Regions from separate parts of the Homo sapiens genome. Here region 2 is linked to region 1. The links come from fine-mapping of genetic effects on gene expression. A gene starts in region 1. The other region holds a variant in brackets. All regions are shown on one strand. Distances are from middle to middle.

The links. PIP is the estimated chance that this variant, and not a neighbour inherited with it, causes the effect.
Region 2: its variant is fine-mapped to the expression of RCC2 in whole blood (TOPMed, PIP 0.93).

What each region holds. Positions count from the first base shown.
Region 1 is chr1:17,431,446-17,447,261 of GRCh38, forward strand. It overlaps RCC2 (regulator of chromosome condensation 2), which reads right to left and starts at 8,232. Exons shown (of 13, transcript NM_018715.4): 1 at 8,100-8,232; 2 at 6,785-7,077. The coding sequence starts at 7,069. It overlaps LOC124903862 (a long non-coding RNA gene), which reads right to left and starts at 10,098. Exons shown (of 2, transcript XR_007065508.1): 1 at 10,013-10,098; 2 at 8,691-9,608. RefSeq lists silencers at 6,913-7,012, 8,332-8,471.
Region 2 is chr1:17,460,865-17,476,680 of GRCh38, forward strand. No RefSeq gene overlaps it. Among named protein-coding and RNA genes, the nearest start is that of RCC2, 29 kb to the left of the region's middle. RefSeq lists enhancers at 1-60, 7,089-7,744, 7,745-8,398, 8,399-9,052, 9,053-9,706. The variant C/T (reference allele first, on the strand shown) is at 9,031.

The DNA of each region.
Region 1 (15,816 bases):
CACCTGAGGTCAGGAGTTCAAGACCAACCATGGTGACAAAGCCAGCCCTGTCTCAAAAAAAAAAAAAAAAAAAAAAGAAAGAAAGAAAAAGAAAAAAGGGCAGCTCCAGGCCCAATCATTCTAACCTCTACAGTGTGATCACCCCATGGGTATGCTTTGGCAGTACGGCTCACGCATTTCTAAGATTACACATCTTCATGACGGATGATTTCCACTTCAATAGGAACCTTTACACGACCCAAACCTGATTAGGGCGTCCCCCAAGATATAGGTTCCGTCACGCTTGCCCACTCCACCACATTATGTAACAGGAAAAAGATGGTCAATCTACAGGAATGCATCCTGCAGTCCTCATGAAAAGGGGAAGTGAGGCCAGCCGCGGTAGCTCATGGCCCGTCATCCCAGCACTTTGGGAGGCCAAAGTGGGTGGATCACCTGCGGTCAGGAGTTTGAGACCAGCCTGGCCAACATGGTGAAACCCTGTCTCTACTAAAAATACAAAAAATTAGCCGGGTGTCTGTAATCCCAGCTACTTGGGAAGCTGAGGCAAGAGAATCGCTTGAACCCAGGAGGCAGAGGTTGCAGCGAGCCGAGATCACACCATTGCACTCCAGCCTGGGCAACAAGAGCGAAACTCTGTCTCAAAAAGAGAAAAAAAAAGTTGGGGGGAGGGAAGTGAAACAACACGGAAAGGGAGAACAACTTTGGTTCATTTAAATTATTTAGAAAATGACCTTAATCAGAGGGTGGCCCAGCCCCTGCAGCACCCACAACTCAGGTTACTTGAATTGGAGCCTAGCTTCCCCTGGTTATCTGCCCTTCTTTGTTTAACTGGCAGGCCTGGCTGGAATATGCTACAGGTCTATATTCAATGGCTTCTGTTGAAGTCCCTGTGGAAGGAGAGGCCTCTGGGTCCTCTGCCCAAGCCTACCAAGTTGGCATGGAGGGGGCAGTAGAGACCCAGGAAGGGTGCTAAGGCACTGGAGACCAAGCTCCCAGGCCAGAGGGCAAGCCTAGAAAAGAGCCCTGGAATGCCAGCAACTGCAGACCAGGCAGGCGGAGGTTCATGGGCACCTGTGCTCAGTATGAACCATTGAAGTCAAACCACCCTACACTGAGATGCAACCACTGCAGCAAAACTTCACAGTGCTGAGGCCACACCAGAAGCCTCAGCTCCATCAGGCCAGAGGGCATGGTTCAGGGGCAAGTTCAGACAGCCAGAGCTTAACCGCAGTGGCCTTGGCCTTGGGGAGGGAGTTTCCTGGGTGACCTGGACATTTGGTCAAGGGCTCATGAAGACTGATCCATCAAGCTAGCTAAGCATTTATAGGCAAACCCAACCACGCCAATAAAAATGTATTTGTGGGCCGGGCATGGTGGCTCACGCCTGTAGTCCCGGCTACTCGGGAGGCTGAGACAGGAGAAGGGCATGAACCCGGGAGGCGGGGCTTGCAGTGAGCCGAGATCGCGCCACTGCACTCCAGACTGGGCGAAAGAGCGAGACTCCATCTTAAAAAAAGAAAAAGAAAAAGAAAAAGAAAAAAATATATATATACACTCACACACACATATATATACACACACACACACATATACATACGTGTGTATACATATACATATATACGTGTGTATGTGTGAAAAACCCCGGTAAACTGAGTCTACTCCAGTGACGGTGGTCAGATTCCTATGAAGGACATTAACTGTTATTCAAGTTTTTACGTCATGGATCCTATTTCCTCACACATTAGATGGAGGTTAGTGTATTTCGTTATTATTTACATAATTGTTTGCTCTAAGCTGCTTTCTTTTATTTCTCTATAACTTCTTTCCTCTGCCTTATGTGGAATTAACATTTAAATAGAGTAACAGAGAACTCCCAGCACCCCTTCTCACTTAAGGGGTGCTCCTCTTCCTCAGAGACCAGAAACAGCCAATCGTGGGAGAGACTCCCGCGCTTGCGGGCTCCACCCGGGGCGGCGGGGCAGGGCGGGGGTGCCAGTGGGTGTGTGGGTGTCTGAAGCTCAGTGTGCCCTCCCAGGCGGAATCCAGCCTTCCCTGATGGGCCTACGGATTGTTTTTTTGGACGAACTCAGTGTCTGCGACCCTGCTTGTGTATAAAGGCCACGCAGCAGACAGCCTGGCAAACAGTCTGCCCAATGAGATGAGTGATTTTCATGTCATTTCACCTGGCTGCCTCCAGCAACTTGGTCACATAACCTGGGCAGAGACACACAGAAATGGACAGAAAAGGCACTGAGCTTCTTCAATCAACAAAATGGGATTTCTAGTCTAAAGCAATTTTTGAATTATGATCCAAATGCAAGGTGCGCGTTTACGGGGCCCAGAGTCAACCTTTTAACATAGGTCCATGTAGAAGACCGCTGCTCCGGGGAGGTAAGACCCCCGGGAACAATGCCGGCATCGACCAATTACCTAAGGGCCATCAACTGAAACAGACTTCCGGGTTGGCTTTCAGTTTTATTTATTTGCTCCTTTCAGATTCAACACATCTGTCTCAGGGTCCACAAAACCTTGGCAACCCAAGACTGGAAAAACTACAAAGACCTGGGCAGCTTGCAACACTCACCTGTTTTGTAGGATCTGGCCAAGGCTGCTGCCTTTACTTGCTTTAGGAGGTTATGAAGTGCGCAAAGAATTAGGACTGAATCTACCCTAGTGTGACACTGCCATCAATATTTGGAGTTCCTGGCATGCAACTTCCCAAATCCTTGGAATCTCCAAAGCAATGTCTTTTTGTATGCTAATGACTGACACTGGCAGCCCCCAGGCAGCTTCCGGATGGGGCAGTGGGAGCCTAGGGACTTTCAGCCCCATCCTCCAACCTCAGGAGGGAGATGACTGAAGGTTAAAGTGATGATCAATGGCTTAATCTACCATGCCTACATAATGAAGCCTCCGTTAAAAACCTGTAAGGACCAGGTCACAGAGCTTGTGGAGAGCTGAACATGTACCAGGTGGGTGGTCTGCAGAGGGCACGGAAACACAGTGCCCCTTCTGCCACATCTAGCCTTACAGGTCTCTTTATCCATAGCCTTTGTAATATCCTTTATAATAAACTGGTGTTTCCCTGAGTTCTGTGAGCCATTCCAATAAATTAATCGACCCCAAAGAGGGGGTCATGAGAACCCCAACTAGAGGCTAGTTGGTCAGAAGCTACCAGGGACTGGACTTGCAACTGGTGTCTGGGGTGGAAGGACAGTCTTGGGGACTGAGCCCTCAAGATGAGGAAATCTACCTCCAGGTGGATAGTGTCAAGAGATGAACTGGAGGACACCCAGCCGGTGTGTGCTGCAGAACTGATTGCTTGCTTGATAGCAGGGGGAGACCTCCCTTTACGTCTAGTCACAGAAGTCTTGTGTTGGGAGGCGGGGCGTGGTGGCTCACGCCTGTAATCGCAGCACTTTGGGAGGCGGGCAAATCACGAGGTCAGGAGTTCAAGACAGCCTGGCCAACATGGTGAAACCCCATCTCTACTGAAAATACAAAAATTACCGAGCACAGTGACAGGTGCCTGTCATCTCAGCTACTCAGGAGGCTGAGGCAGGAGAGTTGCTTGAACCCAGGAGGTGGAGGCTGCAGTGAGCTGAGATCACACCACTGCACTCCAGCCTGGGAGACAGAGCAAGACTCCATCTGGGGTGGGGGGTGCGGAAGAAGTCTGGTGTTGGTTGTTGAGTGTGGCCGTGAGAGCGGAGGAAAAAAGAATTTGAATTTTTTCTTAACACCTAGGCAATGACAACGCTCATCTGCCATAAGAATGTTCTATAAAATGCACATCTTTTACTCAAGGCAATTCTGCCCCTCAACAATGTAAGTATTTGGCTCATCTTCTACAAGCCCGACACCTGCAGCTTTGGGGTCACTGAAGGCAATATGGTTTTGGACATTTCCTGGGCGGCTGCTTTCACACAGACCTCCTCCTAGCAACCCTGAGCGGGGCAAGGCATGCAAAATGCTCAGTAAAAAAGGTTCTTTCTGCAACAAGGACTGCTGTCTGCCTGTGGCAGCACACAGGGTCCCTAGGACTGCTCAACAGAGAAACAGAGACCAGAAACCTGGGGCCAGGGAGACTGGGCAGGAGGCCAACCCAGGACAAGGGGCAGAGGGCTGCCCTAGGCCTATGGAAAGGCAATGGGGCTGCATGGACCCAGCCCCGAACATGGACCAAACTCAGTAGATGCTAACAAAACTTAAACGTGGGGCACTTTGGGAGGCCAAGGTGGGTGGACCACCTGAGATCAGGAGTTCGAGACCAGCCTGGCCAACGTGGTGAAACCCCGTCTCTACTAAAAATACAAAAAATTAGCCAGGTGTGGTGGTGGGCGTCTATAATCCCAGCTACTCGGGAGGCTGAGGCAGAAGAATTGCTTGAACCCGGGAGGCGGAGATTGCAGTGAGCTGAGATCGCAACATTGCACTCCAACCTGGGCAACAACAGCTAAACTCCAGCTCAAAAAAAAAAAAAAAAAAGCAAAACTTAAATGTAGGGTGTGCACTTTCCATGAGGCATAAAGGGGCATCATATGCTGAACCCTCAGCCTCCCAGGTGCTCTGATTCTAGAACAGCACCGACAGCCCAAAGGATGGGCATCATGGGCCCCTGTTGGTTTTAAGTGGATAGAGAAAGGAAGATGTAGCTTTTAGAGTCCTGCTTATACACATATGTAAAATAATAACGTATTTATGTGTATAAACAGGAACTTAAAAGCTGCAATGGACTGCTGTTTACTCACATTAAGACTTACAAACATGCAACCCAACACAGGGCTCGCGCCTGTCATCCCAGCACTTTGGAAGGAGGCTGAGGCAGGCAGATCACTTGAGGCCAGCAGTTTGAGACCAGCCTGGCCAACATGGTAAAACCCAGCCTCTACAAAAAGTACAAAAATTATTCGGGTGTGGTGGAACACACTTGTAATCCCAGCTGCTCGAGAGGCTGATCAGCACACAAAAATCACTTGAACCTGAGAGGCGGAGGTTGCAGTGAGCTGAGATCGTGCCACTGCACTCCAGCCTGGCCATAGAGGGAGACTCTGCCTCAAAAAAAAAAGACTAACAAATGTGCCATTTCCATTGACAAAGCAGCTTCAAGCAGCACAGCTGGAGACAGAGGTGGGCCAGGGAGAGCCAGTGTCCCTCACACACTCCCTGTCTCTACCTCCTTGGGTCAATCTCAGCATGGGGTAAGGATCTTTTGCTCTGATGGCAAAATTCAGCGTTCCAACAGTCTGGAGCTGTACAGCTGATAACTGCAGTCTTGGATGTCTAAACACAATCTTGCTTTTGGAAACTCACTCAAAATAGGATACAGGAGACGCGGAAGCTCACCTGGCCTTTCTTTTTAGTTTCATCCTAACATACTGTGTTCGGAGGGCAAATGTCTGGAGTCTGGCACAGCAGACTAGACGTCAAAGGAAAACAGTTCCTGTGTTCCAGTTTCTCAATACTTTGGCCATTGTCTAGTCTAGCCTGATCCAAGACCCCGGGCAAGACCTTTTGACAGCTTTTGACGGGCTCTCCTCCACTGCCTAACATGTTAACCCTTTCACCCAGAAGGCACTTTTACAAAGCATATTCCCATGTGCAATTTGCAGGGACATCAGGAGTTACAGCATTTGGAGATCCAGTTCCATCCATGACTTTGGACAAGGCCCTCGAATTCTGTGCCCCAGTTTCCCTATCTATAAAACGGACGTAGAAAATGTGTTATTAGACACTGCCTGCGCTTCTCTGGAGGAAAGCACTCTGCTGTTAACCCTTAAACACCCTTAGGAGATGGGCACTTATGGAAGGAAAAAAACCTCTCCGGGTGTCAGGCTCTACACCCCAGGTGGAAGTTCTTGCTCTCTGGGGGTTATCTGAGAATCTGGTGAAAACTTAGACCCTCTTCTGAAAAACATATCCCACACCACACCAAACTTAAAGAAAGTTCTGTGGGGGTGGGGAGATGCTGTGGCGGCAGATGCCGGGTTCAGATCTCCGGCTCTGCAGGCTTTTTCGGGAACGTTAACTTGAGTCAGCCACGACCTTAATTAAGATTTGAGAAAACAGAAGCCCGCCCAGGACCCTAGGAGATGCTTCTTCACTTGGGGGGGCTACAACAGAGCCCTCGCGAGCATCCTGCAGCTTCGGACCACCGGCGGCAAACAAAGCCCGAGCACCGCTCAGCCGGGGGGCTTCCCCGACCTCGGGGGAGGGCTCTGCGGAGCATGCGCGGCGGCCGTCAGGCCCCGCCCCCCCCGGGCGCCGGAGCCGAGGCGGCGGGAACCTCAAAGCCCCGGCGCAAACGGCCGCTCCCCGCAGAGCGCCGGCCGCCCCCTCCCCGCGGCGCCCGGGCGCAGCGGCGGCCACGGACGTGTGGGGCCCGCTGGCCGCCCCCTCTTCCAGGCCGGGCGAACTTACCGAGGTCCCCTTTCCCGGGGCGGGGGGGGAGGGGCGCAGAGGGAGCTGTGGGGGCGGGGCCATGACCCCCTCGTGCGGGCTTCGGCCGCCCCTCCCCCGCCGCGGGCCCGGGCGCGCGCCCCAACCGCCAACCGCCCGCGCGGTGCCCGGGGTCGGGTAGGCCGCGGGCCGCGCGCCCCGTACCGAGCCCTTTTGTTGCGCGGAGGCGGAGGCAATGATTCAGCCCGCGGCCTGCGCCGGCCCGGCCGCCGGGAGGGAGCGTGACGCGAGGCGGCCCCCGGCTGGAACGCGCGCCGTGCCGCGTCGCTGAGCCCGCCGGCCCCGGCCCTGCGCCCACCCGTCTACCCTGACCCTCACTCACGACGCGCTCCTTGGTGTGCTCGGGTTCGGTGATGACCACGGCCGCGCCGCCCGCCTTGCCTGCTGTCGCCGGCCGCGCCGCGCGCTTGCCCCCGCCGGGGGCCCCGTCGAGCTCCAGGCCGTCCTCGTCGCCGCTGCTGCCGCCGCCGCTGCTGCTACTGCAGCGCTCGGGCCGCTCGCGCTTCCTGCCCGCCGGGCCGCCGCGTTTCCTGGGCCCGGCGCGGGCAGTGCCGTTGCCCGAGCTCGGCTCCTCCCAGGCCGCCGCCGCCGCCTTCTTCCTGGGCATGGTCGCGGCTGGAGGGAGACACGGGGCAGCGGCGCACAATGGACGGGTTATAAACTGCGCGGGGGGAGGGGAGCGGAGACGAGCCACCCGGCCTCCACTTCCTCCTCTGCCCTCCCCAAAGTGGCGGCCGCAGGGTGGGCGGAGAGGGGGCGAGTTGGGAGAGGAAATCGCGCCCCTCCCTGGCCCCGGCGCGGCTCCTTCGGGGAATCCCGCAGGGCAGCCGGGAGCCCCAGAGGCAATCCCCTGGAGGGAGAATTGAGACCCCCGGCCTATCCGTAAGTTAGGTTTGCCCACAAAGCATCACAGTTGCAACCTCGCCCCCCAAAAGTAAAGGGAAAGTAAAACCAGCCTCCAGTCCCCTAGATTTTCATTAAAGAAGGCTTCGGGACACTTCCAGGATTCCCCCTTGGCACCTGGGTGGTAAGGGAGCCCCTGCTCCCCGGCTACCCCACCTGCTGCTTTTGTCTCCGCAGTCTCCCCCCAAACCCACTCATGGCATTTAATGCAACGCTCTCCCCCACCCCGCATCAGCCCTGGACCCCCGTTCGGCCCCAGCTCAGGGGTGCCGACCTCGGGCTCTAGTTAGCCGAATCCCTACGGCGGACTGCCCCCGGCGACGGGGGAAGAGCCCGAAGAAAGCTGGACCCCAGCCCCAAACACCTGCTCGCACAGACACGAAAAATAAAAACTTTAATGGTGCCCAACTCTCTCCCAGCCCCCTTGCCGGCCGTGCGGCCCGGCCGGTCTCCGATTCGACTGCAAAGTGTCCAGGGCCGCCGCCAGCTCCCCGGCGTCCCTGCGCTCTCCCCTGTCTGCTTTTTTTTTTTTTTTTAATTGATTTTGAACAATGGGATCTCTGTCTGTCTCCGATTAAACCACGTGGATCCGCCTTCCTTCCTCTTTTTATTCCTTCAATCACCCAGCCCCCCTCCCCCAGGTTTTTTTTTAACCTTTTCTCTTTAAAAAAAGGAAAAAAAAAAAAACTTTCCCAGACCCCACAAACTGATCACTGTCGATTTTCAGACCCTACCTGGTTGGAGTGATGAGAAACCGGAGAGAAAAAAGGAAGAGAAGCAACTAAAAGACGGATCGGAGGGCTTTTTTTTTTCCGGCCCAGACGAGGGCTCCAGCCCACTCACCAGATACACTTAAAATGTAAATACGAGCTTCCAGAACAAATGCTACAACACAAAACAGAAACACATGTGCGGCCGCGCGGCAAGCGAGCGCGCGGCGGGGCGGGAGGCGCGGGGCGCGGGGCGCGCGCGCCCCCTGCCGGCCGGCGGACCCGTTGCCGGCGCCCCCGCCCCGCCCGGCCTGGCCCTGCCCTGCCCACCCGAGCCTGCGCCGCGCGCCGCGCGCCTCGCCGCCCGCCTCGGCTCCGCTGCTCCTGCGCCTTTCGCGGGCCCGCGAGCGCGCTTTGGGCCTTCCACGCAGTGCGGCCTGCGCGTCAGGGACTTCTTTGCGGCTTAGGAGGATGTTGGATTGTTTTTCCTGGGCACGTCTAGACAGGTCACATGAGGACACTCGCTGGAAAATAGTTACTTCGCTCACGCAGCAGCCAACAAGGGACGTGCCCTAATTGAGTGATTGGAATGAAAGATGAATACAATTTGAATAATTTTTTCCTGTGCAGAGAGAAGCTGAGTTTTATTTGCCTGTGGATGTGTCCTCAGTATGTAACAAGGTGCTGTGACACGGAAGAATCACATAAAGGTTTGCTGTATTAGTGAATTAATTCATAATTAATTTGAGGGCCGTGGAGGCACTGGAAGCTGGCTTTGAGGGGAACTTTTTCATTTTTTGCCAAATATTTACTGAGCCCCCGGTACATGCAAGACCCACAGTGCCCGGGGCTGCAGAGCCAGTGAACAAGGTTTCCACCCCAGTGGAACGCACAGCCTAACGGAAAGACAGATCAGTAAACAAGTAATTACAACAGTGGTAAGCTTTACAAAGTGATGCCTGTGTAGGAACATTATGGCGAGGGGATTTATCCTAGTCCAGGGCCAGGGAAGGCATTCAGGTGGAAAGTTATGCTGAACAACTTAAAGGATGAATAAGACCCGATGAAAGGGGGCAGGAAAAGTATTCCAGGCCAGGTGGAGTGAACGGGACGCTCCACATTTCGAGATCTTGAGAGACACCTCCTGGGAGGGAAGCTGTCTGGTGGGGCTGGGGTGAGAAGAGCCAAGAGGCTGGGTTCTGAGGAGGTAGGCAGGGGTGCGAGGGCCTGCATAGACCCTAGTGAACCGCAGTGAGGCTTGATCTCGTTCGCGTGTCCTGGGACGGGTGAAAAAAGCCTTGCTTGCTTCCTACCGGTCTCCACCCTCCACCTCTCCACCCCACTTCCATTACGATCTCACCGTCACTTGCTCTCCTCTCAAAGCTTTTCTCCTGCTTCTTTTTTCCTGAGGCGTACCGCACAAGGAAGTTCCTTCTTCAGGCAACTTCTTGAAAACGCATAAAGTTCTAGGATTTTTGTGATTCATTCATTCATTGTTAGTGCAAGAAACAGGACTGGGAAGCATCAAGTGTCCTGTAAAGGAAGACAGAGAAACCAAGAGGCCCAAATCTAAGGTATTTGATCAAAGTCAAAAGTCTGTGTGTCAAGAGAGCTGAGAGTGCTTATGTAAAAGAACTTTGGAAATGAGAAATCAACTGGTACGTTTCAGAGATTTTCAGAAAAGTCAAGATGGAATAGAAGCACCCTTTGAAAGCCTATTCTTAATAGACCTGCATTTAAAAAGATTTTTTAGAGGTTAAACTTTGACGCTTTGATATAAAGCATAAGTAGAACCAACCAGAAAAGAATTTCGCCTAAATATGCCATCAAGTCCCCTTCAGGAAATGGCATGCTGATGCTTGTCAGCCGAGGCGGGTGGCTGGGTGTTTATCCTCTAAACACCCTGTGTGGCCAATTAGGAACACCACTGACAGTACCTTTAGATTTCAGTCTGCAAGTCTTTTCCTTTTTTCTCCTGCCCCTTTATAATGCTTTTTGCCAGCTTAAAAGACTCATGCCTCAGACACACTGATGCAATGAGACGCTAATATCATATTGCATCATCTGATCCTAGGTGTGGTGCTCCTGAAACTGGTTTTTCTTGAGGTTATGCTGCAGTAGAAAAGCACTTTGGGTATAACACCCTGGAACTGGCCCTACTTGTCAGAAGACAAAAGTAATTTTTGCAACTCCATGCCTCAATTCCACACCACTATTCTCCCAGGGAAAGCCTGCGTGACTCTCCCGGCTGGAATTGGGTGTGCAACAGACATTCATCAGTTAGGCGTGTCATGCTGCCACTTATGTAACAAATGTTACATAGTGAGGTGCACCTACAGGCAAGCTGAAAATGACACTTCCTCCTTCAAACTGTGCTTGGAATTTCACCTCGCTTCTAATTGAGCAAATTCTCCAGGGACAGGATGGTTTGGTGCAAAACCGGGAGAGGGGAAGGGAAAGAAGGTGGCTGAGATTTCTCTGACACTTTGAGGCACAGGTGTCTGGCACTGTGCTGAGCATTTTACACCCAGAATTTTGGAAATGTGGCTGCAAGTGCCAGCCTGCCGTCACTCTTTAACCTCATCTTCAGCAAAATCATATTGCAAGTTAGATTCAGCTACGCTTAAGTTCTTTTCCAGGGGTGAGGTGTGATTTTTTCTTTCTTTTTTTTTTTTTTTTTTTTATTTTTTTAGATAGAATCTTGCTCCTCCAGCACCCAGGCTGAAGGGTGATGGTATGATCCCAGCTTACTGCAGCCTCTACCTTCCTTGCTCAAGCGATCCTCTCGCTTCAGCCTCCCAAGTAGCTGAGACCACAGGCATGGACAGCTACACTTGGCTAAATTTTTTTTCTTTTTTAATGTTTTGTAGAGACAAGGTCTCTCTCTGTTGCCCAGGCTGGTCTCGAGTGGTCCTCCCACCTCAGCCTCCCAAAGTTGCGGGATTATAGGGGTGAGCCACTGTGCACAGCCTCAGAAGTATAATTCATTTTTTTTTTTCTTTTGAGGTGGGGTCTCGCACTGTCACCCGGGCTGGAGTGCAGTGGTGGCAACCTCCACCTCCCAGGTTCAAGCAGTCTCCTGCCTCAGCCTCCCAAGTAGCTGGGATTACAGGCGCATACCACCACGCCTAGCTAATTTTGTATTTTTAGTAGAGACGGGGTTTCACCATGTTGGCCAGGCTGGTCTTGAACTTCTGACCTCGTGATTTGCCCGCCTTCGCCTCCCAAAGTGCTAGGATTACAGGCGTGAGCCACTGTGCCCAGCCTCAGAAGTGTAATTCTATTCAACTTGGCTACAGAAAGCTACACCTGTACTTGAAAGATTAATTTTCTGATCCAGTGTCTATAAAAATGAAACCAGTGATCCTGGGAGTGATGCGCTAACCAATGGAAACGATTCTTTCTCTTTTTTTTTTTTTGGAAACTGGGTCTCACTCTGTCACCTAGGCTGGACTGTAGTGGCGCCATCTTGGCTCACTACAGCCTCGACCTCCTGGGGTCAAACAGTTCTCCTGCCTCAGCCACCCTAGTAGCTGAGACTGTAGACGTGCACCTCCACGCCCAGCTAATTTTTAAAATTTTTTTGTGGAGACAAGGTCTCACTATGTTCCCCAGGCTGGTCTCAAACTCCTGACCTCAAGCAATCCTTTTGCCTTGGCCTCCCACAGTGCTAGGATTATAGGCATGTGTCACTGTGCCTGGCTTCTTTTTACTCTTTTCAATGTGACTACCACAAAATTTAATATTACATATTAAGTTTTTTGTAGCTCATATGTTATTCCTGTTGGACATCACAGCCTTCGAAAGCATAGCTGGAAAACCAGTAATTTCCTCCAGACCCCACTCTTTCTGCATCTGTTCTCTAGTTTCTCCTCTCTGTAAAATGGCAAGATAGAGTTTGGGCTAAATTTCTCTTGAGGTTACTTCTGGATTTCGTATTCCCTGATTCTGAGGACAGTAGTCAGCGGGGAATCCCTGTCATAGTGTTTGGAGAGATGTTTTCTGGGAGATGCAGATCCGGTCGTCCTATTTCTGCCAATGAGTCATGAAATTTTCAAACGCAGAGTCTTTAAATATTGTAGTTGGACCTTTAAGTTCTCTGTCTGTGAGGCATGCCTGGGCTTGGCTTGTGGCTTCTTCATCTTTGTTTTTCTAGCAAGCACCCAGAGCAGCCCGGCGTGTAGTAAGCTGTCAATATATGTTTGTTCATCTAAATAATATCCAGCGGAAGAACTGAAGCCCAGGGAGATGCTGAGGCCTCCTGAGGCCACACAGCTGGCAGATAGGATAGCCAGGAAGTGTACAGGCATCTGCATCAGTAGGAGGATTGTCAGAAACACAGAATCTGGCCAGGCGTGGTGGTACACGCCTGTAATCCCAGCACTTTGGGAGGCTGAGGCAGGACGATTGCTTGAGCCCAGGAGTTGGAGACCAGCCTGGACAACATGGTGAGACCCCATCTCTACAAAAATTAGAAAAAAATTAGCCAGCCGCGGCCAGGCGCAGTGGCTCACGCCTGTAATCCCAGCACTTTGGGAGGCCGAGGCGGGCAGATCACTTGAGGTCAGGAGTTCGAAACCAGCCTGGCCAACATGGTGAAACTCCCGTCTCTGCTAAAATATACAAAAATTAGCCGGGCGTGGTGGCAGGCAACTTAATCCCAGTTACTTGGGAGGCAGAGGCAGGAGAATCGTTTGAACCCGGGAGGCGGAGGTTGCAGTGAGCCAAGATCGAGCCATTGCACTCAAACCTGGGGGATAAGAGTGAGACTTCTCTCAAATAAAAGAAAAGAAAAGAAAAAAATTAGTCAGGTGTGGTGACGCAAACCTGTAGTCCCAGCTACTTTGGAGGCTGAGGTGGGAAAATCGCCAGAGCCTGGGAAGTCCAGGCTGCTGTGAGCCATGATCATGCCATTGCACTCCAGCTTAGGTGACAGAGTGAGACCCTGTCTCAAAAAAATAAAAATAAACACTGAATCTCAGGTTCAGCCCCCAGACCTACTGAATCAGAATGTGTTTTTTTTTTTTTTTTTTTTTTTTGAGTTGGAGTTTCCCTCTTGTTGCCCAGGCTGGAGTGCAGTAGCGCAATTTGGGCTCACTGCAACCTCCACCTCCCAGTTCAAGCGATTCTCCTGCCTCATCCTCACAAATAGCTGGGATTACAGGCACCTGCCACCACACCCAGCTAATTTTTTGTATTTTTAGTAGAGACGGGGTTTTGCCATGTTGGCCAGGCTGGTCTCGAACTCCTGACCTCAGGTGATCCACCCACCTCGACCTCCCAAAGTGCTGGAATTACAGGCGTGAGCCATCACACCCGGCCCAGAATGTGCATTTTTAACAGGTGATTTTTATGCATCTTAAAGTATGAGAGGTGCAGCCAGGCATGGTAGCTCACACCTATAATCCCAGCACTTTGGGAGGCTGAGGCGGGCAGATCACCTGAGGTCAGGAGTTCGAGACCAGCCTGACCAACATGGAGAAACCCCGTCTCTACTAAAAATTAGCCGGGCGTGGTGAGCGGAGATTGCGCCATTGCACTCCAGCCTGGGCAACAAGAGCGAAACTCCATCTCAAAAAAAAAAAAAGTATGAGAAGTGCTACTGAAATCATACCACTTTTCCATACCCTGTGGAAGCCATTCAAAAGGTGGTTTCTCATACTTTAAGATGCATCTAGCTGGGCGCAGTGGCTCACGCCTGTAATCCCAACATTTTGGGAGGCCGAGGAGGGTGGATCACGAGGTCAAGAGATCGAGACCATCCTGGCTAACACGGTGAAACCCCGTCTCTACTAAAAATACAAAAAATTAGCCAGGCATGGTGGCGGGTGCCTGTAGTCCCAGCTACTCGGGAGGCTGAGGCAGGAGAATGGCATGAACCCGGGAGGTGGAGCTTGCAGTGAGCAGAGATCGCGCCGCTGCACTCCAGCCTGGGCGACAGAGCAAGACTCCGTCTCAAAAAAAAAAAAAAAAAAAAAGATGCATCTAGTCCAGGGTGAGGAGGTCCAGGATGCAGAATACCAAGACTCACCAAGCTGGCTGATGTGGTTAGGCTTTGTGTCCCCACCCAAATGTCATGTTTTTATTTATTTATTAATTTATTTATTATTTATTTTTTTATTTTTTGAGACGGAGCCTTGCTCTGTTGCCCAGGCTGGAGTGCAGTGGCGCGATCTTGGCTCACTGCAGGCTACGTCCCCTGGGTTCACGCCATTCTCCTGCCTCAGCCTCCCGAGTACCTGGGACTACAGGCGCCCACCACTTCGCGTGGCTGATTTTTTGTATTTTTAGTAGAGACGGGGTTTCACCGTGTTAGCCAGGATGGTCTCGATCTCCTGACCTCGTGATCAGCCCACCTCAGCCTCCCAAAGTGCTGGGATTACAGGCGTGAGCCACTGCGCCCAGCTATTTATTTATTTATTTTTATTTTATTTTATTTTTTTGAGATGGAGTCTCACTCTGTTGCCCAGGCTGGAGTGCAGTGATCTTGGCTCACTGCAGCCTCTGCCTCCTGGTTCAAGCAATTCTCCTGTCTCAGCCTCCCAAGTAGCTAGGATTACAGGCACACACCAGCACACCTGGCTAATTTTTGTGTTTTTAGTAGAGATGGGGTTTCACCATGTTGGCCAGGCTGGTCTCAAATTCCTGACCTCAAGTGAGCCACCACGCCCGGCCTCCTGCTGCCTTTTGAAGAAGGTGCCTGCTTGCCCTTCTGCCATGATTGTAAGTTTCCTGAAGCCTCCCCAGCCATGCTGAACTGTGAGTCAATTAAACCTCCCTTGTTTATAAATTACCCAGTCTTGGGTAGTATTTTTATAGCAGTGTGAAATCGGACTAATACACTGGCCTAATGAAGACTTAAGGAAATTCAACAGATATTTACTGACCCTCTACACTGCCCCGGGCCTGGCAGCTGGTGCACCCACTTCTCTTCCTGAGGGTTGGAGGAGCTCACGCTTTTGCAGCCCCTGTTGCCTGCATCTGAAGGAGTAAGCAACCACTTCACAGTTTTGCCATCAGCTGGGCCTGCTCTTCCTCCTTTAGTACAGGAGAAATTTGAAATGAAAATGAGCACACCTTGGGAGTTAAATCTAATTTTTCAGGAAAAACAGGATCGAAATCACTTTCATCAATGTCTGCCTGTTAGTTTGTAACCACCGGCGCTCCCAATCTGCAGGAGTGTTTGCATTCATGTTGTGTTCCTGGCTTGAGATAGAGCCACAATTTGTAAAGCTGGTCTGTAATCAATAGCTCTCCAGTCGGCCGGGCGCGGTGGCTCACGCCTGTAATCCCAGCACTTCAGGAGGTCAAGATGGGTGGATCATGAGGTCGGGAGACTGAGACCATCCTGGCCAACATGGTGAAACCCCATCTCTACTAAAATACAAAAAATTAGCTGGGCGTGGTGGCACGTGCCTGTAGTCCCAGCTACTCAGGAGGCTGAGGCAGGGGAATCGCTTGAACTCGGGAGGCAGAGATTGCAGTGAGCCAAGAGTACCACTGCATTCCAGCCTGGGTGACAGAGCGAGACTGAGTCTCAAAAAAATAAATAAATAAAGGCTCTCCAGTCATTTTCTAAGACTATCCCTCACCTAAGCTTGCAAATAAAAGCTAACTTCTGCAGAGATTCCATCTTCCCCTGCCAGTGGGCAATATGGATGTATAGTCATGAGATTAGAAAAAGAGAGGCTGGCCAGGCACGATGGCTCACGCCTATAATCCCAGCACTTTGGTAGGCTGA
Region 2 (15,816 bases), 29 kb after region 1:
TTCAACCTGGCCGTGAATCCTTGCCACACCTTGCATTAGAGAAAGGCTCCTTTCCAAACCATTTCATGTGTGTGTTAAAAACCATTTCTGGGCGGGGCGCGGTGGCTCACGCCGGATCGCCTGAGGTCGGGAGTTCCAGACCAGCCTGGTCAGCATGGTGAAACCCCGTCTCTACTAAAAATACAAAAATTAGCTGGGCGTGGTGGCAGGTGCCTATAATCCCAGCTACTCAGGAAGCTGAGGCAGGAGAGTCGCTTGAACCCTGGAGGTGGAGATTGCAGTGAGCCGAGATCGCGCCACTGCACTCCAGCCTGGGTGACAACAGAGTGAGACTCCATCTCAAAAAAAAAAAAAAAAAAAAGAAAGAAAGAAAGAGAAAGAAGGCCAGGCGCAGTGGCTCATGCCTGTAATCCGAGCACTTTGGGAGGCTGAGGCGGGTGGATCACGAGGTCGGGAGATTGAGACCATCCTGGCTAACACGGTGAAACCCCGTCTCCACTAAAAATACAAAAAATTCTCCAGGCATGGTGGCGGGCGCCTGTAGTCCCAGCTACCCCGGAGGCTGAGGCAGGAGAATGGCGTGAGCCTGGGAGATGGAGCTTGCAGCAAGCCAAGATCGTGCCACTGCACTCCAGCCTGGGCGACAGAGTGAGACTCCATCTCAAAAAAAAAAAAAAAATGAAAGAAAGAAAAGTCTGAATCGATGACTAAACAAATCACAGGACTTTTCAGTAGTTAGTATTTTTTTTTTCAGGCTAGATTCCCCAAAGTAGAATTTCTGGGGTAAAGGGCGTGACTTTTTAAATTTTATTTATTTATTTATTTTAAGATGGCGTCTTGCCCTGTCGCCCAGCCTGGAGTTCAGTGGCACCATCTCGGCTCACTGCAACCTCCACCTCCCAAGTTCAAGCGATTCTCCTGCCTCAGCCTCCGGAGTAGCTGGGATTACAGGCGCACACCACCACGCTCGGCTAATTTTTTGTATCTTTGGTAGAGATGGGGTTTCACCATATTGGCCAGGCTGGTCTCGAACTCCTGACCTCGTGATCAGCCCACCTCGGCCTCCCAAAGTGGTGGGATTACAGGTGTGAGCCACTACGCTCGGCCACGGACATGACTATTTTTAAGACTCTTGATGCAAATTGCACACCCAAAGAGCAGGTGGTGCTTCCTACCTGTCTAAAGCAGTGCACAGCAGGACCCTCTCAGGTCCTGACATCAGTGTTGCATTTAAAATTCCTAACACCTGTCCAGGTGCGGTGGTTCATGCTTTTAATTCCAGCACTTTGGGAGGCCGAGGCAGCAGATCACTTGAGGTCACGAGTTCGAGAGCAGTCTGGCCAACATGGTGAGAGCCCATCTCTACTAAAAATACAAAAATTAGCCAGGCGTGGGCCGGGGGCAGTGGCTCACGCCTGTAATCACAGCACTTTGGGAGGCCGAGGTGGGCGGATCACGAGGTCAGGAGATCGAGACCATCCTGGCTAACACGGTGAAACCCTGACTCTACTAAAAATACCAAAAATTAGCTGGGTGTGGTGGCGGGTGCCTGTAGTCCCAGCTACTCGGGAGGCTGAGGCAGGAGAATGGCGTGAACCCGGGAGGCGGAGGTTGCAGTGAGCCAAGATCGCGCCACTGCACTCTAGCCTGGGCAACAGAGCGACACTCTGTCTCAAAAAAAAAAAAAAAATTAGCCAGGCGTGGTAGCGGGCGCCTACAACTCCAACTACCCAGGAGGCTAAGGTGGGAGAATCACTTGAACCCAGAAGGCAGAGGTTGCAATGAGCCGAGATTGCACCACTGCACTCCAGCCTGGGCTACAGAGTGAGGCTCTAAATAAATAAATAAATAAATAAAATTTCTAACACAAACCACCCTGTAGATAAGTACACTCAGCATATCTTTATTGAACGCATGAAAGGAAGAAGGGTTTGTTGTGATTTTTCTTTTGAGACAGCGTCTCCTTCTGTCACCCAGGCTGGAGTACAGTGTTGCAATCATGGCTTACTGCAGCCTTGACCTCCTGGCCTCCTGGCTCAGTAGTTGGAATCACAGGCACACGCCACCACACCTAATTTTTACACATTTTTGTAGAGACGAGGTTTCACCTTGTTGCCCAGGTTGGTCTTGAACTCCTGGGCTCAAGCAATTCTCGCACCTTGGCTTCCCAAAGTGCTAGGAATACAGATGTCAGCCCCATGCCAGGCCCCCTTTTGCATATCTTAACTTTAACTTTGTTTGTTTGTTTGTTTTGAGATGGAGTTTCATTCTGTCACCCAGGCTGGAGTACAGTGGTGTGATCTAGGCTCACTGGCAACCTCTGCCTCCTGGGTTCAAGCCAGTCTCCTCTCTCAGCCTCCGAGTAGCTGGGATTACGGGTACGTGGCACCACACCTGGCTAATTTTTGTATTCTTAGTAGAGATAGGGTTTCACCATGTTGGCCAGGCTGGTCTCAAACTCCTGACCTCAGGTGATCTACCCACCTCGGCCTTTCAAAGTGCTGGGATTACAGGCGTGAGCCACAGCGCCCGACAAACTTCTTTATATATGCATGCCAACAAAGAGTCAGACCCTGTAAAATATTTGAAGAGATTTATTCTGAGCCAAATATGAGTGACCATGGCCCGTGACAAAAGCCCTCAGGAGGTCCTGAGATGTGTGCCCAAGGTGGCTGGAGTGCAAGTTGTTTTTATACATTTTTGAGAGACATGAGACACCAATTAAATACACTTAAGAACTACATTGGCTTGGTCTAGAAAGTTAGGACAACTCGAAGCAGGGCGGGGTTGCTTCCAGGCTATAGGTGAATTTAAACACTTTCTGGTTGACAATTGGTTGAATTTGTCCAAAGACCTGGGATTCATAGAAAGGGAATGTTCAGGATAAGATAAATACTGTGAGCCCAGGCACAGTGGCCCAATCCCAGCACTTTGGGAGGCCAAGGCAGGCAGATCACCTGAGGTCAGGAGTTTGAGACCAGCCTGGCCAACATGGAGAAACCCTGTCTCTATAAAAATACAAAATTAGCCGGGTGTGGTGTTACATGCCTGTAATCCCAGCTACTCGGGAGGCTGAGGCAGGAGAATCGCTTGAACTCGGGAGGTGGAGGTTGCGGTGAGCCGAGATGATGCCATTGCACTCCAGCCTGGGCAGCAAGAGCAAACCTCCATCTCAGGAAAAAAAAAAAAAAAGATAAATATTGTGGACACCAAAGTTCTTTTGAAGTCTTATAGTGGCTGCTTTTAGAGACAATAAATGGCAAATGTTTCCTATTCAGATCTTAGTTAATCTCTATAGGATTGTGAGGTTCTGGAAGAAAAAGATCTAGCTATGTTAATAGAGATTCTTTACAGATGCAAATTTTCCCTAGCAAGGAACAGCTTTGTAGGGACATTTCAAAATATGACAAAGAAACATGTTTTGGGGTAAAATATTTTGATGTTCTTCCTTGTCTCATAATGTTATGCCAGAGTCAGTCAGGTTGGAAAGTCAGTCACAATACCTAGGGTTAAATAAAACCCATCTGAAGAGAATTTATGATTTGTAGGGCATGGCTCCCCAGACCCCTTAGATAGGAATTTGGGCAAGATAAAAATCAGAGTTTAGGCCGGGCGCGGTGGCTCACGCCTGTAATCCCAGCACTTTGGGAGGCCGAGGCAAGCAGATCACGAGGTCAGGAGATCGAGACCATCCTGGCTAACATGGTGAAACCCCGTCTCTACTAAAAATACAAAAAATTAGCCGGGCGTGGTGGCGGGCACCTGTAATCCCAGCTACTCGGGAGGCTGAAGCAGGAGAATGGTGTGAACCCAGGAGGTGGAGCTTGCAGTGAGCTGAGATTGTGCCACTGCACTCCAGCCTGGGCGACAGAGCCAGACAACGTCTCAAAAAAAACAAAAACAAAAAATCAGAGTTTAGTCCTCATGCCTCACATATGTGCCCAGGAAGTGGGTACTCCTGAAATCCCCGTTTCACAGATGAGGAAACTATGGTGGAGTATGAGAGGCTTGGCCAGGGACAGTATAAGAACAGGCACAGGCCAGGTGCGGTGGCTCACGCCTGTCATCCCAGCACTTTGGGAAGCCAAGGTGGGTGGATCACCCGAGGTCAGGAGTTCAAGACCAGCTTGGCCAACATGGTGAAACCCTGTCTCTACTAAAAATACAAAAATTAGCTGGGGATGGTGGTGTGCACCTGTAATCCCAGCTACTTGGGAGGCTGAGGCAGGAGAATCGCTTGAACCTGGGAGGTGGAGGTTGCAGTGAGCTGAGATCACAACACTGCACTCAAAAATGGGCAACAAGAGAAAACTCCATCTCAAAAAAAAAAAAAAAAGAGAACAGGCACAGGTAGAGATGATTAAATAGCAGTGAGCGCTCGGAATCTTGAGGAAGAGAGAAGGAAGGTGGGTAGGGCGTGTACCCATCTTAGATTCTTTGGCTGGGACCCTATTCATTAGACTAACAAAAGACAGATTGGCAAGAGAAAAATAAACAGAAGTTGATTATGACACTTGTACATGGGAGTACTCAGAGGTAAGTGACTCAAGAGGGTGGTTAGAACTGGGGTTTATGTAGCAACTTAACAAAAGAAGAATACATTTTAGTGAAGTGAAAAGACGAAGGGAAAGCACTAGGGCAGCAAATCGTGAGAGGGTCAATATATGGGGGATGAATGGAAGATGGGAGCTAGGAGTGGAGTCGGTTAAGTCTACTCCTCTGGGCCCCAGGAAGTTTAGGGTCTGGAGGTGTCTCTGGGATCAACTTTTGTCCTTCCTGGTGGTTTTTTTTGCGGGGTGGGCACATTTATAAATTTATGTCTTGCTTTTTGGCAGCTACGGGAAGGGCAGAGAGCTTTTCTTCTTCTTTTTTTTTTTTTTTTTTTTGAGACGGAATCTTGCTCTTGTTGCCCAGGCTGGAGTGCAATGGTGCAATCTCAGCTCACTGCAACCTCCACCTCTCGGGTTCAAGCAGTTCGCCTGCCTCAGCCTCCCGAGTAGCTGGGATTACAGACCTGTGCCACCACGCCCGGCACATATTTGTATTTTTAGTAGAGATGGGTTTTCACCATGTTGGCCAGGCGGGTCTCTAACTCCTGACTTCCTGATCCACCCGCCTCGGCCTCCCAAAGTGCTGGGATTACAGGCGTGAGCCACCACACCTGGCCTGTGCCTGTTCTTATACTGTCCCTGGCCAAGCCTCTCATACATCATGAGCCACTGCGCCTGGCCTGCTTTTCTTTCTTTTTCTTTCTTTCTTTCTTTTTTTTTTTTTTTTTGAGATGAGTTTTGCTCTTGTTGCCCACGCTGGAGTGCAATGGTGCTATCTCGGCTCACTGCAACCTTCTCCTCCAGGGTTCAAGCGATTCTCCTACCTCAGCCTCTCGAGTAGCTGGGATTACAGGCACGTGCCACCACGCCCGGCTAATTTTGTATTTTTAGTAGAGACGGGATTACTCCATGTTGGTCAGGCTGGTCTCAAACTCCTGACCTCAGGTGATCCACCCGCCTTGGTCTCCCAAAGTGCTGGGATTACAGGTGGGAGCCACCGACCCTGGCAGAGAGAGCTTTTCTTCTATCTGCTTCTTCTCAGTTGCTTTCAGCTCAACAGGATCCTCATTGCAAAGTGGCATGTTTTGGGCTATTGTATCTGTCAACCTTCAGAGGAATCTGAGAGGCGGGGCCCAGAACAGGTGGGTGGGATTCGGGAGGGAAAGTGGATTTGCTCAGGTACAGGGGTAGGGAGCGCTGTCCCGTCTTCAAGATGTCATCCCCTGCCTTGCTGGAATCTTCCCCACACTGTTCCTGACTCAGGGGCCCAGTCCAGTCTTTTTTTTTTTTTTCTTTGGGACAGAGTCTTGCTCTGTCACTTAGCCTGGAGTGCAGTGTCATGATCTCCACTTACTGCAACCTCTGCCTCCAAGGTTCAGGCAATTCTCATGCCTCAGCCTCCCAAGCAGCTGGGACTACAGGTGTGCACCACCACGCCCAGCTAATTGTTGTATTTTTAAGTAGAGATGGAGTTTCGCCATGTTGGCCAGGCTGGTCTCGAACTTCTGACCTTAGATGATCTGCCTGCCTTGGCCTCCCAAAGTGCTGGGATTATAGGCATGGGCCACTGCACCTGGCCCTGGCTCCCATTTCTGAGCTACATTGAGCTACTGAACTTCTGTGCCTTATTTTCCCCTTCTGTAAAATGGGAATAACAAATTCTTGACCTCAGTCTTCTTCTAAGTATTAAATAATTTTTTTTTTTATTTTTAAATTTTTGCCAGGTGCAGTGGCTCACGCCTGTAATCCTAACACTTTGGGAGGCAGAGGCAGGTGGATCACCTGAAGACGCAAGATCGAGATCAGCCTGGCCAACATGGTGAAATCCCGTCTCTACTAAAAATACAAAAATTAGCTGGGTGTGGTGGTGCACACCTGTAATCCCAGCTACTTGGGAGGCTGAGGCAGGATAATTGCTTGAACCCGGGAGGTGGAGGTTGCACTGAGCTGAGATCCCGCCACTGCACTCCAGCCTGGGCAATAGAGTGAGACTCCATCTCAAATAATAATAATAATAATAATAGTAAATAATAATAATAATTTTTCAAGAATAGAGACGGGGTTTCTTCATGTTGCCCAGGCTAGTCTCGAACTCCTGAGCTCAAGCAATCCACCCGCCTCAGCCTCCCAAACTGATGAGACTACAGGCATCAGCCACCATGCCTGGCTTTAAGTATTAAGTAATATCTGTAATGCACTTCTCAGGCAGCCTGCCTGGCACACAAGAACCCATTCATGTGTCCCTTTGTAAATTCCATAACCAGCTCCTCCAACCTGTGAGAAAACTTGCCAACCGTACTCTCAAAGCAGATATGTTGGGTTTTCCTGGCATCTTGTGAGCACACTTTATTGTAAAAAAACAAAAACAGAATGCCTCTGCTATGTTACATACTGATATGACATTTCTTCTTCTTCTTTTTTTTTTTTTTTGAGACAGAGGGACTCACACTCTGTTGCCCAGGCTGGAGTGCAGTGGTACAATCTCCGCTCACTACAATCTCTGCCTCCTAGGTTCAAGTGATTCTCCTGCCTCAGCCTCTCGAGTAGCTGGTATTACAGGCGTGCATCACCACGCCCGGCTAATTTTTTGTATTTTTAGTAGAGACAGGGTCTCACCAGGTTGTCCATCCTGGTCTCGAACTCCTGACTTCAGGTGATCCACCCGCCTCAGCCTCCCAAGGGCTGGGATTACAGGCATGAGCCACCATGCCCGGCCTTGTTTCTTCATTCTTTTAAATGTTGAGGCATGATTTACTCATAAAATGCGTGCACACATTTTAAGTGTACAGTTCATGATTCATTTTTTTTTTTTTTTGACACAGGGTCTCTCTCTGCTGCCCAGGCTGGAGTGCAGTGGCGTGATCTCCGCTCACCACAGCCTTCACCTCCCAGGTTCAAGCGATTCTTCTGCCTCAGCCTCCCCAGTAGCTGGAACTACAGGCATGCCCCCACCATGCTCAGCTAATTTCTGTATTTTTAATAGAGATGGGGTTTCACCATGTTGGCCACTCTGGTCTCGAACTCCTGACCGCAAATGACCTGCCCGCCTCAGCCTCCCACAGTGCTGGGATCTCAGGCATAAGCCACCACGCTCTGCCATGACTCTTGAGAAATATGAGCATTCATCTAACTGTCATATGTGGAGCATGTCCAGGACCCAAGGGTGTTTCCTCCAGCTCCTTTGCTATCTCTCTTCTCCCACCCTCTTCCCCTGGGCAACCTCTGTTCTGATTTCTATCACTATGGCTCAGTTTTGCCTGTCCTAAAACTTTATTTATTTATTTATTTATTTTGAGGCAGAGTCTCACTCTGTCACCTAGGCTGGAGTGCAGTGGCACTATCTCAGCTCACTGCAACCTCCGCCTCCCAGGTTCAAGCAATTCTCCTGCCTCAGCCTCCTGAGCAGCTGGGATTACAGGTACGCGTCACAATGCCTAGCTATTTTTTGTATCTTTTGGTAGAGACCGGGTTTCACCATGTTGGCCATGCTGGTCTCTAACTCCTGAGCTCAAGTGACCCACCCACCTTGGCCTCTCAAAATGCTGGGATTACAGGCATGAGCCACTGTGCCTGCCCTTATTTATTTTTTTGAGATAGGATCTCACTGTCTCACTATCTGCCCAGGCTGGAGTGCAGTGGCATGACCTCGACTTACTGCAACCTCTGCCTCCCGGGTTCAAGCCGTTCTCATGCCTCAGCCTCCAGGATAGTTGGGATTACAGGCATGTGCCACCACGCCCAGCTAATTTTTGTATTTTTAGTAGATACGGGGTTTCTCCCTGTTGGCCAGCCTGGTCTCGGACTCCTGACCTCAGGTGATCCGCCCGCCTTGGTCTCTCAAAGTGCTGGGATTACAGACGTGAGCCACCGCACTAGGCTGAATCCACTCCTTTTTATTGATGAGAAGTTTTTCACAGTGTACAGGACAGGGAAGGAAGCTGGAGCCCTCTCCTGTAACAAGAGGCAGGTTAAATAGGGAAAAACAACACAAGTTGATTAAGATGTTTACCTTATGTATACGTGGGGGAAGCCCAGAGAAAAGGGGAAATCTCCAAGAAGTGGCTTTGCTTTGTTGGCTTAAATACTATCTTCAACTAACATGAAGAAGGGGGTGGGGGTGGGGGTGGGGGGGGCCGGGCGCGGTGGCTCAGGCCCCTAGTCCCTGCACTTTGGGAGATGGAGGCGAGCAGATCACCTGATGTCAGGGGTTCAAGACCAGCTTGGCCAACATGGTGAAACTCCGTCACTACTAAAAATACAAAAATTAGCCAGGCATGGTGGCGGGCACCTGTAATCCCAGTTACTTGGGAGGCTGAGGCAGGAGAATTGCTTGAACCCAGGAGGCAGAGACAGTGAGCCGAGATCAAGCCACTGCACTCCAGCCTGGCGACAGAGACGGACTCCTCAAAAAAAAAAAAAAAAAAAAAAAAAGAGGCATGGCGCAGTGGCTCACGCCTGTAATCCTAGCACTTTGGGAGGC[C/T]GAGGCGGGTGGATCACCTGAGGTCAGGAGCCTGGCCAACATGGCGAAACTCTGTCTCTACTAAAAATACAAAAATTAGCCGGGTGTGGTGGTGGGCGCCTATAATCCCAGCTACTCGGAAGGCTGAGGCAGGAGAATTGCTTGAACCTGGGAGGTGGGGCGGAGGTTGCAGTGAGTCGAGATCACGCCACTGCACTCTAGCTTGGGAGACAGAGCAGGATTCCTTCTCAAAAAAAAAAAAAAAAAGAAAGAAAAAAAAGAAAGAAAGGTGTGTGGAAGTGGAGGGCAGCTATGGAGCGATGACCAGAAAAAGCTCAGCAAACAAGGGTTTGTTATGCAGATTGCAACTGATGCTTTCTCCATTGATAAGAGTTTCTAGTAATTTAGAGTCATTCTTCTCTTCCTGATATGGAGAGGGAGATACTCTTTCAAATGGAGGTTTCCTTTAGAGATGCAAATTTTCCTTACAAAAGAGTAACTCCTACTCTGTTTTTAGAGCTCCTCTTGTGTCTGCAGTTTCTCAAAATAATCAGCTCTAAATAATCCTTATGCCAATGAGGCATATTTTGGGGTGGCATATTCTGGTCTCCCGCAGTCTTATTTTGGGGTGGCGTATTTCTGGCCTCCCGCAAGTTTTCCACGCTGTACAGATAAACCACGATTTGTTTATCCATTCTCCTGTTGATGGACATCCGGATTCTTTCCAGTTTGGGGCTCTTATGCACACAGCAGTGATGAATATTCAGGTAAAAGTCCTGTGTAGCCACATGGTATCAATTCTCATATAAATATCTAGGAGTGAGATTGGTGAGTCTTACGGTAAGTGTGTGTATTGGAAATTGACAAACTATTTCCAAAGAGGTTGTACTATATTGCATACTCACCAGCAAATTATGAATGTTCTATTTGCTCCTAATCCTCTACAACACTTGATACTGTAAATCTGTTTTTTGTTTTTTGTTTTTCAGTCAGAATCTCCCACTGTCACCTAGGCTGGAGTACAGTGGCACAGTCTTGGCTCACTGCAGCTTCAACCTTCAGGGCTCAAGTGATCCTCCCACCACAGCCTCCAGAGCAGCTGGGACTACAGGTGTGCACCACTATGCTTGGCTAATTTTGTTTTTTTTTAATTTTTAAATTTTTTGTAGAGACAGAGTCTCACTGTGTTGCCTAGGCTGGTCTTGAACTCCTGGGCTCAAGCAATCCTCCGGCCTTGGCCTGCCAAAGGGCTGAGGTTACAGGTGTGAGTCATGGTGTTTTGGCAAAATGTTTTAAATTATAACCATTCTAGTAGAAGTGATTTTGATTTTAATTTGATCATTGTGATTTAATTTGCATTTCCTTGATAACTAATGATATAGAACATCTTTTCGTGTACTTATGGCATACTCATCTACTTTGTTTTGTGAAATGTCTGTTCAAGTGTATTGCCCATTTAAAAAAATGGGGCTGGGTGTGGTGGCTCATGCCTATAATCCCAGCACTTTGGGATGCCAAGAAGGGAGGATCACTTGAGACCAGGAGTTCCAGACCAGCCTAGGCAACATAGTGAGACCTAGTCTCTGCAAAACATTTAAAAATTAGCCAGGCATGGTGGTGGTCGTCTGTAGTCTCAGCTACTCAAGAGGCTGAGTTCATAGGATTGTTTTAGCCCAGGAACTCAAGGCTGCAGTGACCTATGATTGCACCACTGTAGTCTAGCCTGGGCAACAGAGCAAGACCCTCATTTCTTTTTTTCTTTTTTTCGGACATGGAGTCTCACTCTGTCACATGATCATAGCTCACTGTGGCCTTGACCTCCTGGGCTCAAGCAAACCTCCCACCACAGCCTCCCTAGAAGCTGGGATTTCAGGCATGTGCCACCACACCCAGCTAATTTTTGTATTTTTTATAAAGATGTGACTTTGGCATGTTGCCCACACTGGTCTCAAACTCCTGGGCTCAAGCAATCCTCACCTTCCCAAAGTGCTGGGATTATACGTGTGAGCCACTGTGCCTGGTGGAGACACTATTTTTTTAAAAAGAGAATTCGGCCAGGCATGGTGGCTCACACCTGTAATCCCAGCACTTTGGGAGGCCGAGATGGGCAGATCACAAGGTCAGGAGTTCAAGCCCAGACCAGCCTGACCATGATGGTGAAACCCTGTCTCTACTAAAAATACAAAAACTAGCCAGGCATGGTGGCGCATGCCTGTAGTTCCAGCTACTTGGGAGGCTGAGGCAGAAGAACTGCTGGAACCCAAGAGGCAGAGGTTGCAGTGAGCCGACATCGTGCCACTGCACTCCAGCCTGGGCAACAGAGGGAAACTCCGTCTCAAAAAAAAAAAAAAAAATTCTGTTTTTGTGTAAGGTGTGAAATAAGAGTCCAGGTTAATTATTTTACTTTATTATTATTATTATTATTATTATTATTTTGAGACGGAGTCTAGCTCTGTCGCCCAGGCTGGAGTGCAGTGGCACAATCTCAGCTCACTGCAAGCTCCGCCTCCCGGGTTCACACCATTCTCCTGCCTCAGCCTCCCGAGTAGCTGGGACTACAGGCGCTTGCCACCACGCCTGGCTAATTTTTATATCTTTTGTAGAGACAGGGTTTCCCCACAATGGCCAAGCTGGTGTTGAACTCCTGACCTCAGGTGATTCACCTGCCTCGGCCTCTCAAAGTGCTGGGATTACAGGCGTGAGCCACCGCGCCCGGCCAAGGCATTTTTTTTTTCTTTGAGACAGAGTCTCTCTCTGTTGCCCAGGCTGGAGTGCAGTGGCATGATCTCCACGTCCCGGGATCAAGCAATTCTTTTGCCTCAGCACCCCCATGTAGCTGGGACTACAGGCATACATCACTACACCTGGCTAATTTTTGTATTTTCACTAGAGACGGGGGTTTCACGGGGTTGGCCAGGCTGATCTTGAACTCCTGACCTCAAGGGATCCACTGGCCTTGGCCTCCCGAAGTGCTGGGATTACAGGCCTGAGCCACAGCACTTGGCCCGTTTAAGGCATTCTAAGTCACAGCATGAGATAGGAGATTGGCACAAGATACAGGTCATAAAGACCTTACTGATAAAACAGGTTTGCAGTAAAGAAGCCAGCTAAAACCCACCAAAACCAAGATGGCGATAAGAATGACCTCTGGTCGTCCTCACTGCTACACTCCCACCAGTGACCTGACAGTTTACAAATGCCATGGCAACGACAGGCAGTTACTGTATAAAGTCTAAAAAGGAGAAACATGAATAATCCACCTCTTGTTTAGCACATAATTAATAAATAACCATCAAAATGGGCAACCAGCAACCCTCAGGGCTGCTTTGCCTGTGGAGTACCTATTCTTTGTTCCTTTACTTTTCTAATAAATTTGCTTTCATTTTACTGTACGGACTCGCCCTGAATTCTTTCTTGGGAGAGATCCAGGAACTTGGGGTCTGCATCAGGACCCCTTTCTGGTAACAAGAACTTTGGTCAAATATTATTCTGAGGCCGGGCGTGGTGGCTCATGCCTGTAATCCTAGCACTTTGGGAGGCTGAGGCAGGTGGATCACCTGAGGTCAGAAGTTCAAGACCAGCCTGGTGAACATGGTGAAACCTCATCTCTACTAAATATACAAAAATTAGCCAGGCATGGTGGCGGGCGCCTGTAATCCCAGCTACTCAGGAGGCTGAGGCAGGAGAATGGCGTGAACCTGGGAGGCAGAGCTTGCAGTGAGCCGAGATCATGCCACCGCACTCCAGCCTGGGCGACAGAGCGAGACTGCGTCTTAAAAAAAAAAAAAATTTTTTTTAAATTAGCCAACTCTGGTCATGTGTGCCTGTGGTCACTACAGTCTCTGGGATTGTAGGACACACCAACACGCCCTGTTAATTTTTTTTTTTTTTTTTGTAGAGATGGGGTCTGGCGATGTTGCCCAGGCCAGTCTTGAACTCCTGGCCTCAACTGATCCTCCTGCTGTCATGGCCACCTGAAGTGTTGCGATTACAGATGTGAGCCACCATGTCTGCTGGCACAAATTTTATTATATGTTAGGATCTATAACAATATCCCTTCATTCCTGATATTAGGAATTTGTGTTTTTACTTTTTAATTTTTTTATATTTATTTATTTATTTATTTTTGAGGCGAAGTCTCGCTCTTGTCCCCCAGGCTGGAGTGCAATGGCGCAATCTCGGCTCACTGCAACCCCCGCCTCCTGGGTTCAAGCCATTCTCCTGCCTCAGTTTCCCAAGCAGCTGGGACTACATGTGCATGCCGCCATGCCCAGCTAATTTTTGTATTTTCAGTACAGACGGGATTTCACCATATTGGCCAGGCTGGTCTCGAACTCCTGACTTGTGATCCACCCGCCTCAGCCTCCTAAAGTGCTGGGATTACAGGCGTGTGCCACCATGCCGGGCCTACTTTTAATTTTTTTTATTTTTGTTTTTTGAGACAGAGTGTTGCTCTGTCACCCAGGCTGTAGTGCAATGGTGCAATTTTGCCCCACTGCAACCTCCACCTCCCAGGTTCAAGCGATTCACTAGCGTCAGTCTCTGAGTAGCTGGAATTATAGGCATGTGTCACCACGCCTGGCTAATTCACTTTTGTATTCTTGATTAGTCTTGCTTGAGGTTTATCAATTTTGTGAATCTTTTCAAATAACCAACTTTTGTGGGTTGGTTGGTTTGTTTGTTTTGAGACAGAGTCTCACTCTGTCACCCAGGCTGGAATGTAGTGGCAGGACCTCAGCTCACTGCAACCTCTGCCTCTTAGGTTCAAGTGGTTCTCCTGCCTCAGCCTCCCAAGTAGCTGGGATTACAAGCATGAGCCACCTCACCTGGCCCAACTTTTGTTTTTGATAATTTTTTTCTATTTTCTTCTTTTTTCTAATTCATTGATTTCTGATCTTTATTCTTTCTTTCTTTCTTTTTTTTTTTTTGAGATGGAGTGTCGCTCTGTTGCCCAGGCTGGAGTGTAGTGGCGTGATCTCGGCTCACTGCAACCTCCACCTCCCGGGTTCCAGCGATTCTCCCGCCTCAGCCTCCCGAGTAGCTGGGACTACAGGTGCGCATCACGGAGCCCCGCTAATTTTTGTATTTTTTAGTAGAGAGGGAGTTTCACCATATTGGCCGGGCTGGTCTTGAACTCCGCCCACCTCGGCCTCCCAAAGAGCTAGGATTACAGGCATGAGCCACCGCGCCCAGCCTTATTGTTTCTTTTCTTCTACTTACTTTGGGTTTAATTTTCTGTTGTTCTCTTAGGTTCTTTATATAACCATCTCCAATATAACCATTCTTTGCTATTATAACCATTGCAAGCTATATATTTTCTTCTACTTACTTTGGGTTTAATTTTCTATTGTTCTCTTAGATTCTTAATATAACCATCTCCAATGTAACCATTCTTTGCTATTATAACCATTGAAAGCTATACATTTTCCAGGCTGGGTGGGGCGGCTCATGCCTCTAATTCCAGCACTTTGGGAGCCTGCGGTGAGAGGATTACTTGAGTTTAAGAGTTCAGGGCTGGGCGTGGTGGCTCTTGCCTGTAATCCCAATACTTTGGGAGGCCGAGGCAAGCGGATCACCTGAGGTCAGGAGTTCAAGACCAGCCTGGCCAACATGGTGAAACCCGTCTCTACTAAAAATAGAAAAAATTAGCTGGGCATGGTGGCATGTGCCTGTAATCCCAGCTACTTGGGAGGCTGAGGCAGAAGAATCGCTTGAACCTGGGAGGCGGAGGTTGCAGTGAGCCGAGATCGCACCATTGCACTCCAGCCTGGGCAAAAAGAGCAAAGATCTGTCTCCAAAAAAATAAAAGAAACAGTTCAAAACCAGGCTGTCCAACATAGTGGGGCCCCATCTCTACAAACACACAAAAAAATTAATACAGTAGCTGGACATGGTGGCACATGCCTGCAGTCCCAACTACTCAGGAGGCTGAGGTGGGAGGGCTACTGGAGCCTAGGATGTTGAGGCAGCAGAGGCCTGTGATTGTGTAATTGCAGCACTCTAGCTTGAGTGACAGAGCAAGAGAGAATCTGCGATTACAGGTGTGAGTCACTATGCCCAGCCTGTTTCACTTATACCCTGCAGAAGATGCTATCTGGAGGCCTGGCGTCATCTTCCCCCATGCATGTTCAGCCAGCCCTTAGTCAAGGACTTTTAGTGGACATTCCTCCTCTCCCCTGCCAGACCTCGGGGCCTCCTTCTGCACAGACTCCTCCTCTCTGGCACCATGTCCCACCATTTCTAGCCATTTCCACTGCCCCAAATGCTAACTCCACCTTCTCAGCTCAGCAGGACACTAAGTTCTGCCTGGACTCCAGCTCACCGTGCAGTGATTACAAAACTGTCCCCAGGAAGAGGGTAGGGAGAGGGGCAGAGGGTGAAGTCTCACCTTGTGAGTTTCCCTCCACTCGGGGGTCATAGGCTTGTGCTGCCTGTGGTTCAGTGCCTGAAGACTGGCATTCACGGCTTTTGTCCAGTTTAGTTTAATGGTTTCTTAAGATGAGAGGGCTTGTGGGGTACCAGTTACAGCATGGCTGTAAGTGAAGGTCACCCTCCTCACTAAGATGATGTTTCTTTTTTTTTTTTTTCTTTTTTGACAGAGTCTTGCTCTTGTCGCCCAAGCTGGAGTGCAGTGGCGTGATCTCGGCTCACTGCAACCTCCGCCTCATGGGTTCAAGCTATTCTCCTGTCTCAGCCTCCTGAGTATCTGGGATTACAGGCACACGCCACCATGCCTGGCTAATTTTTTGTATTATTGTAGAGACGAAGTTTCACCATGTTGTCCAGGCTAGTCTCGAATTCCTGATC